Linked DNA regions of Homo sapiens: region 2 is linked to region 1. Evidence: fine-mapped expression QTL. Tissue or cell type: whole blood. Region 1 holds a variant in brackets; the other region holds the start of a gene. All regions are shown on one strand. Distances are between the middles of the regions.

Region 1 (4,262 bases):
ACAGTGATAGAAATACAAGATAAGACTTGTCCTTTCTCTATAAATGTTGTGATGTGCTATTCAGTCACTTTTTTTTTGAAATGCAGATTTGAAATCGTTGGCTATGGATGTTCAATTTGTGTGGGAAATACAGCACCCTTATCAGACGCAGTTTTAAATGCAGTAAAACAGGTAAAATGTGTGGATTGGCAAGACATCTAAATGATTTTCTTAACTATGTTTTGTTACTAAATTATAGAAAATATATATTGATGTGTTTATATTTCTGTAAACTCTGCACCTCTTGGCAATAGTAACCTGTGAATCTTTAAATGATTCAATGAATCATTTGTAGATCCTTGAAATAATTCCTTCATAATACAAGGAATTGATTTAGTTTATTTGCAAGATGCATAGTTCTATATTTAAAAATTAGTAATATGTTTTTTGGTTAATCTCGCCCTCAGACTTTAAGATTGCTTATATATGATTATCCAGATTTGTACCATCTCTAGAATTGAATTTATTTGTTTGTGTGTTTGTGTTTTTTTCAGGGTGATTTGGTTACCTGTGGAATTTTATCTGGAAACAAAAATTTTGAAGGTCGTCTTTGTGATTGTGTTCGTGCCAATTATCTTGCCTCTCCACCCTTAGTGGTAGCTTATGCCATAGCAGGCACAGTGAATATAGATTTCCAGACAGAACCTTTAGGTATCTTTTCCTTTATGTATATGTATACCTACACATACTTTTCCCAATGGAAGTCGTTATATTTTTGAAATGTTTCTTAGACCATCTATTCTTTGAATTATTTCAGGAAGACGTATGATAATGTATAGTTATTAATTTCTGTGTTTATGTGAAGAAAATAAAATGTACAGGTAATTAGTTCTTCCAGCCGCTTAAGCCTGAAGCACCCTGTTGAATCATTTACTTGATTTCCATGATATGTCTTTGAAAAGGTATGAACATTTTCAGAGTTATTTTTTTACTGAGTATCATGTTCAAAAATTTTAACCAGGTACTGACCCCACCGGCAAGAACATTTACCTGCATGATATTTGGCCTAGTCGAGAAGAAGTTCATCGAGTAGAGGAAGAACATGTTATACTATCCATGTTTAAAGCATTAAAAGATAAAATAGAAGTAAGAGTCTTATGTGTTTCTTAAATAGTTTAATCAATTTGCAGTGTTCTTTTATTTCATATATCTTCTGAATAGAATAAAAATTAAAATTACATTATTTTGAATACAGTTTTTAATGTGTAATAGTAAGTTTGTATCTGGAATCTGTAGTTAAAAAGAAAATGGCGGCTGGGCACAGTGGCTCACGCCTGTAATCCCGACACTTTGGGAGGCTGAAGCAGGTTGATCACGTGAGGTCCGGAGCTCAAGACCAGCCTGACCAACATGGAGAAACCGCATCTCTACTAAAAATACAAAACAATTAGCCAGGCTTGGTGGCGCATGCCTGTAATCCCAGCTACTCAGGAGGCTGAGGCAGGAGAATCACTTGAACCTGGGAGGCGGAGGTTGCGGTGATCCGAGATCGCGCCACTGCACTCCAGCCTGGGCAACAAGAGTGCAACTCTGTCTCAAAAAAAAAAAAAAAAGAAAGAAAATGTCTTAGAGGATCAGAATTCATTAGTGTTGATTGGATGATCTGTGCAGCAAACCACCATGGCACACATTTACCTATGTAACAAACCTGCACATCCCGCATATGTACCCCAGAAGTTAAAATAACAGTTGAGGGGGGAAAAGAAAGAATTGATTAGGTGTTCAGAATACATCATTGAACAAAACACAAAATTCTCCTGGGGAGAGGCAAATAAGCTGTAAAGAGAATAATTAGCTAAATTATGCAATATTTATTATTTTTTATTATTTATTTTTTGGTGTTTTTTGGGAGATGGCACCCCACTCTGTCACCCAGGCTGGAGTGCAGTGGCCTGAAGCAGCTCACTGCAGCCTTAACCTCCTGGACTCAAGCAATCCTGCTCCTCAGCCTCCTGAGTAGCTGGGGCCACAGGCGCTCACCATCAGGCCCAGCTAATTTTTTATTTTTTGTAAAATAAAAAATAAAAAATGCTCAGGCTGGTCTCAAACTCCTGGACTCAAGTGATCCGCCCACCTCAGCCTCCCAAAGTGTTGGGTTTACAGGCGTGAGCCACTGTGCCTGGCCTAAGAAATGGTGAGATTTTTGGCTGTAGTTTGAAGGCGTTGATGTGGAACAAATACATTGAAAAAGCAGAGGTTTTTCTCCATTATAACATTCTTAGACATTAACAGCATACCTCATACATGCTTAATCTCTCTGTAGCAACATATAGAAATCTTTCTAAATTCTTTAACTTT[T/G]TTGGACTCTGTGAAGTCTTTATGTTCTGTTTATATTGAAACTTGCCCCTTGGAGTGTTCCTGAACATCTGGTATGCTAGAATTTGAGGAGCAAATTTTTAATCATTCTGTCCAAAAACATCATGATTTTTTAGAACACACTGTTTTGGCTGGGCATGGTGGCTAATGCCTATAATCCCAACCCTCAGGGAGGCCAAGGCCCACGTATCGCTTGAGCTCAGGAGTTTAAGACCAGCCTGGGCAAAAATAAAAATTTAAAATTTTTTAAAAAAAAGAAAAGAATACACTCTTAATTTTCTTTCCAAATGGATAAGGCCTATTTTTGTTGTTGTTGTTGTGACCTAAGTACTATTTTATTCCCTTGATCATTTTCATGCGCCTCTTTTTCTGAGTCCTTTTATCTTTGCTTTGGTTCATCAACGAAAACTGTATTCACAGATGGGGAATAAACGGTGGAATTCCTTAGAAGCACCGGATTCAGTTTTGTTTCCATGGGACTTAAAGTCTACTTATATCAGATGCCCTTCATTTTTTGATAAACTTGTAAGTACTGTTTTACTATTTGATCTTTTAAAGATTGTTATAAACTAAGAAGTCTTGTAAAGAGTTAAATGCCTTGAACTTTTACCTTCTAGACCAAAGAGCCAATTGCACTCCAGGCTATTGAAAATGCCCATGTCTTATTATATTTGGGAGACTCTGTCACAACAGATCATATATCACCTGCAGGAAGTATCGCTAGGAATAGTGCTGCCGCTAAGTATTTGACAAACAGAGGGTATGTGTACATGGCTTTAGAGTGTTTTTGTTTTTTCTTGTTTCTTACTGATTAAGAGGCTTCTATTGGTCTTGTTCCTTTTTTCCAGTAAATACATGCTATCGTAGGTAATCTGACTGCCAATGTGTTTGTCTTAAGCAAGAATGGAGAGTGGCGGGGTGGGGAGGCGGGGGGTACCTTCTGTACTTGTCTTTGCTTGTGACTTTAGAAAATGAAATTGCAATTTTAAATTGAGCCCTTATAGTCTAAATAAACAGCTGATTGGAAATAAGATTTTTCTTTTTCAGTGCTACTTTATTGAAAAGTCAGCTTGGTTTTACCTACCAAATGAAGCCTGCTCATTTGGTTAAAACCAGCTTCCCATTATTGGAGTAAGGAATTTAAATGTGTATTTTATGGGCTATAACATGTACGTGTGTGAGGCTGGGAATGATATGTACAAATCAAAAGACAATGAATTTCTGCTTCATGAGCCTAAAATTTTATAGGAACAATAAACGTAAAGGCCATTTATATTGGAGATATAAATTTAAAACTGGTAAGATTTCATTTCTACATGATTAATCATGTAGAGTTGCCCTGTTATCAAAGGACTGTTTTGACAATAGAGACAAAGTTTTGTTAAAAGCAGGATTTGTAGTACTGCTACCTGATTAGCTTATTGGATGCTTGTTTGATGCTTGAGTAATTAAAATGACAAGCTTTTTCATTGAAATTTATTTATTTATGTATGTATTTATTTATGTATTTATTTTTGAGACAGACTCACTCTGTCACCCAGGCTGGAGTGCAGTGGTGTGATCTCAGCTCACTGCCACCTCTGCATCCCGGGTTCAAGCAATTCTCCTACCTCAGCCTCCCAACTAGCTGGGATTACAGGCACGCGCCACCATGCCCAGCAAGTTTTTATATTTTTAGTAGAGACAGGGTTTCACCATGTTGGTCAGGCTGGTATCAAACTCCTGACCAAGTGATCCGCCCACCTCGGCCCCCCAAATTGCTGGGATTACAGGCATGAGCAACCGTGCCCAGCCAAAATGTCAATGTAGCTTGTGTTGACATGTGATAATATTGCACAGCTTTTATTATAAAGTGGTGAGAAATAAGTTTCCTTTCCTGTAAATATTTTTTTGGTTGTGATTTCCAT
Region 2 (4,000 bases), 51 kb before region 1:
TAAAGGAGATGTTACAAAATATAGCAAGGTGAATAAAGGAAATATATTGGAGTTTGGGTTGACAGGGCTTGGATCAATGATTAAAGGGAGTGGATGAAGGAGTCAGGTATAATGTGTTGATTTCTGGCTTGGGCAACCAGGTGGATGGTGGCGCCATTCGCTAATACAGGCAATACAAAAGGAATAGTAGGTTTAAGGAGGGAAATGACGAGTTCAGTTTTGGAGATTTTTAGTTTGAGGTGCCTTGGGATGTGGAGGCATCCCATGGGTACTAGGATATACACCTCCGGGTTTAGGAGATAGGCTCAGGTCACAGGCAGACTGGGAAGCATCAACATATTAACTAATAACTGAAGTCAAAGGAAGTGTGAGATGGGCCAGGGAAAATGGACAGAGGGAGGAGGTACAAGGCCAGAGCCCTGGGACACATTTAATGTCCAATATATTTTTTTTTGAGACAGGGTCTTGCTGTGTTGCTCAGGCTGGAGTGCAGTGGTGCAATCATGGCTCACCACAGCCTCAATCTCCTGGGCCCAAGTGATCCTCCCACCTCAGCCTCCTGAGTAGCTGAGACTACAGGTGCATGCCACCACACTCAGCTAATTTTTAAATTTTTTTTGTAGAGATAGGGTCTCACTACGTTGCTGTGTTTGGTCTTGAACTTTTCAGCTCAAGCCATCCTCCCACTTTGGCCTCCTAAAGTGCTGGAATTACAGGCATGAGCTACTGTGCCCATCAAGTGCCCAGTACATTTAAAAGCTGGGCGGAGGAAGAGGTCTGCAGAGGAGCCTGAGATCAAGCACCCTTAGGAGAAGAAACAAAAGTAGAGTCTGAAGTCACAGAAGCTGATGGAAGAGTATTTTTCAACAATGGGAGAGAACCAGTCAAGATTGAGATATGTGAGATTAGAAAGTGGAGTTATAGCTGGCCTTGGCTAAAGGCATTTCTGGGAGTGGAAGCCAGACTGGAAGAGGATAAGAAGTGGGTGGGGGAGAGCCGAGTATGAGCGACTCTTTCTGGTAAGTTGCTGCGACAGGAGATAATGCTGGGTAGGTGGAGAACACAGGGACCGGAGGAGCTGAGGCGGAAGGATGGAGAGGCTTAAGCATGTGTTAACTGCCACTGGGAAGAAGTCGGCAATCACGGAAGCTACCGGAGGGTAAGAAAAAATTCATTCATTCAACAGTTGAGCGCCTCCCACGCGCCCGATCAGTATGGCCGCCCCCACTTGAAAACACGCGTGTGGGCCGCCCACGTCTGACAAGTTAATGCAAGGCTTTATAGTTAGGGGAAAGCGGTTCTCCTTGAGCTCTTTCTCCTAGCAGTTCCGATTCCGACCCTGACTCCAACAGACACCTTGCGGGAACGCAAACACCGCTCGAATTCATGACCCCAATAGAAAACTTAAGGCCGCAACTAAGTAACGGATCGCTGCGAAGGCCAAACTAGCCACGCCAACGCCCCCACTGGAGCCTCCCCAGCGCTCCGCCCCCGCTCGCGAGAACAGCGGCGACGGCGCGAGAAATCGCTTTCTGGTTAGCTCCGCCCCTTCCCTTTCTTTGTTTTCCTGTCCGACGATCTCGCGGGAGTTAGGCGACAAATCCCGCGAGCGCAGACCCGGGGCTGGCTCTGCTGCTCTCGCGATATTTGCGCGAGCCTGCTTCCTTCTTTCCTCCCTTGCCAGTCCGCCTGTCTTCCTCCCCGTCTTCCCTGCCCGGCCTCCCCCTTCTTCCCCCGCTGGCCCCCTCCCCGGAGGGATAATATGGTCTCCGGCGATGGACGCCCCAAAAGCAGGTCAGTTTCGGGCCTCCGAGCTGGGTCTGGCAGTTGGAAACGCGCGCTGCCTAGGCGCCGAATTCCTTGCTTTTCTCGCCTGGAGTCGCTCGGCAGGCGCCCAGGCCCTCGGGGCTCGGGTTGTGCTCCCCTCGGGGCCTGCCTGCTGGGCCGCCCTTTGAGCCTAGGCCGCGGAAGCTGGGGCTCCCGATCCCCACCCTCCTGCGCGACACCCGCAGGGCGGGCCACCCCACCGCTGGCCTTGACCCGCACCCCTCTCTCTCCGGTGGCCGCTGCCTGCTGCCAGCGGCTTCCTGGCCCCCGTCAGCAACACCAGGGGCAGGGAGAGGCCCACCGTCTTCTCCTGCCCGCCCCCCATTGGCGAGCGATGAAGGCGGGGGCCTGCGTCTCCGTGTTCGGGTCTCACGCAGCTAGATGTTGATTCCACGGTCCAGCCTAAGGCCCCTCAGTCTCTCTGTGCCTCTGGAAGCCGAATGAGGGGCAGTCAAGGTTGAACATTGGTCAGTCAGTTCTCCGACCATTTATTGCACCGCTGTCTCCTCCCCCGTCCACCTCCCTCTACAAAAAAAAAAAAAGAGAAAAAAATACTATTCATTCTGAAAATGGGCTGTGCTTATGTTTTCTCCTTTTGGATGAAAGCCTTAACAATGTTGAGGGTCCTGGCCACCCACCGCTATGAGTCTGCACAAAAGATCTGAAGGTTCTTTTCAACCTCAGGGCTGCCTCCCCGCCACTGCCCCCTAGAATGTTGGGAGCTGAGGCACGTTTAAATGAGACCTCTGGATCTTTGACTTAGTAGTTCAGCTTCAGTTCGTGCAAAACCAGAAGACTTGTCTCTTTCGGGTAGAATATGCTAATTTCCTAGAGATTCTGTTACTTTTATTTTCAGTACTAAGCCCTGGTAAGGACTTAACTGAGAAGTTTTTTTGTTTTGGTTTATTGAATGCTCTGTAAAAATCCGTCTTTTAGTTTTTTTTTTTAATCAGTCCCTCTAATGTTAATTGTGGAATTCACAAATTCCTGTCTCTGCAGTTTTCAAGACATGTCTTTCCAAAACGTCCCCGTGGATTATTTAAATCATTCTTATTGTCCCTTTCCAGGTATTCTTATCACATTTCAGGAGTGAATTATCTTACTAGTTTTTACTTGACAAATTATGGTTTAGAACTATGCTTTCCAGTGTGGTGGATACTAGCCCTGTGTGACTTTAAATTAATCAAAATTAAATAAATTAAAAATTCAGTTCCTCAGGCACGATAGCCACATTTCAGGTGCTCAATAGCCACACGTTGCTAATGGCTACTTTACTGGACAGCTCAAACATAGAATATTTTTACCATTGCAGAAAATTCTATTGGATAAAGCTAGTTTCCAGGTATTTTCAGCTGAATAAAATATTTTGTTGCTGCATTTAATGAAAATACAATTTTTTTTTCAGGATACGCCTTTGAGTACCTTATTGAAACATTAAATGACAGTTCACATAAGAAGTTCTTCGATGTATCTAAACTTGGCACCAAGTATGGTAATGTTGCTTTACATTTTCTTGGGTTTGTTTAGTCTCTAATAATGAAAATGCATTTGTCAAGCTGAGCTGAAGAAATTTTAAATGTATTTCCACCGTATTGTAACAGGTACACCTACACATACCTATACCATTTTAAAAACTCCTCCTGGGACAACTTCTGTTCAGGGAAGATGTAGGCCCACACCTTAACTTCTCATTTAAAAATCTAAGTTAATTAAGCACTAGTTTTTCCCCTCAAAGAAACCAATAATGCAGTTTTCAAACTTTTTTTTTTCTTGTTTTTGTGAAGACAGGGGTCTTGCTATGTTACCCAGGCTAGTTTTGAACCCCTGGGCCCAAATAATCCTCCCACCTCTGCCTCCCCAAGTTTTGGGATTACACATGTAAGCTACTGCGCCTGGCCTAATGTGATTTTTAGAAGAACCTGACTGACTGATGATAATTCTACACCAATTAAATGTATATTTTATTTTCTCTTTTCTTTTCTTTTTTTTTTTGAGACAGAGTCTTGCTCTGTTGCCCAGGCTAGAGCACAGTGTTGTGATCATAGCTCATACAGCCTTGAACTCCTGGGCTAAAGCAGTCCTGCCTCTGCCTCCCAAGTAACAAGGCCTACAGGTGTATGCCAACACATTTATATAAAAACATATTTTTATATTTTTTGTAGAGTTGGGGTCT

Evidence for each region. PIP is the estimated chance that this variant, and not a neighbour inherited with it, causes the effect.
Region 2: it holds the start of IREB2, and the variant in region 1 is fine-mapped to the expression of IREB2 in whole blood (TOPMed, PIP above 0.99).

Annotation. Positions count from the first base shown.
Region 1 is chr15:78,487,647-78,491,908 of GRCh38, forward strand. IREB2 (iron responsive element binding protein 2) reads left to right here. Exons shown (of 22, transcript NM_004136.4): 14 at 87-171; 15 at 534-690; 16 at 1,001-1,125; 17 at 2,776-2,880; 18 at 2,973-3,115. Among named protein-coding and RNA genes, the nearest start is that of HYKK, 18 kb to the right of the region's middle. The variant T/G (reference allele first, on the strand shown) is at 2,338.
Region 2 is chr15:78,436,563-78,440,562 of GRCh38, forward strand. IREB2 (iron responsive element binding protein 2) reads left to right here and starts at 1,654. Exons shown (of 22, transcript NM_004136.4): 1 at 1,654-1,794; 2 at 3,233-3,319. The coding sequence starts at 1,776. RefSeq lists enhancers at 1,189-1,268, 1,339-1,398 and a silencer at 1,869-2,108.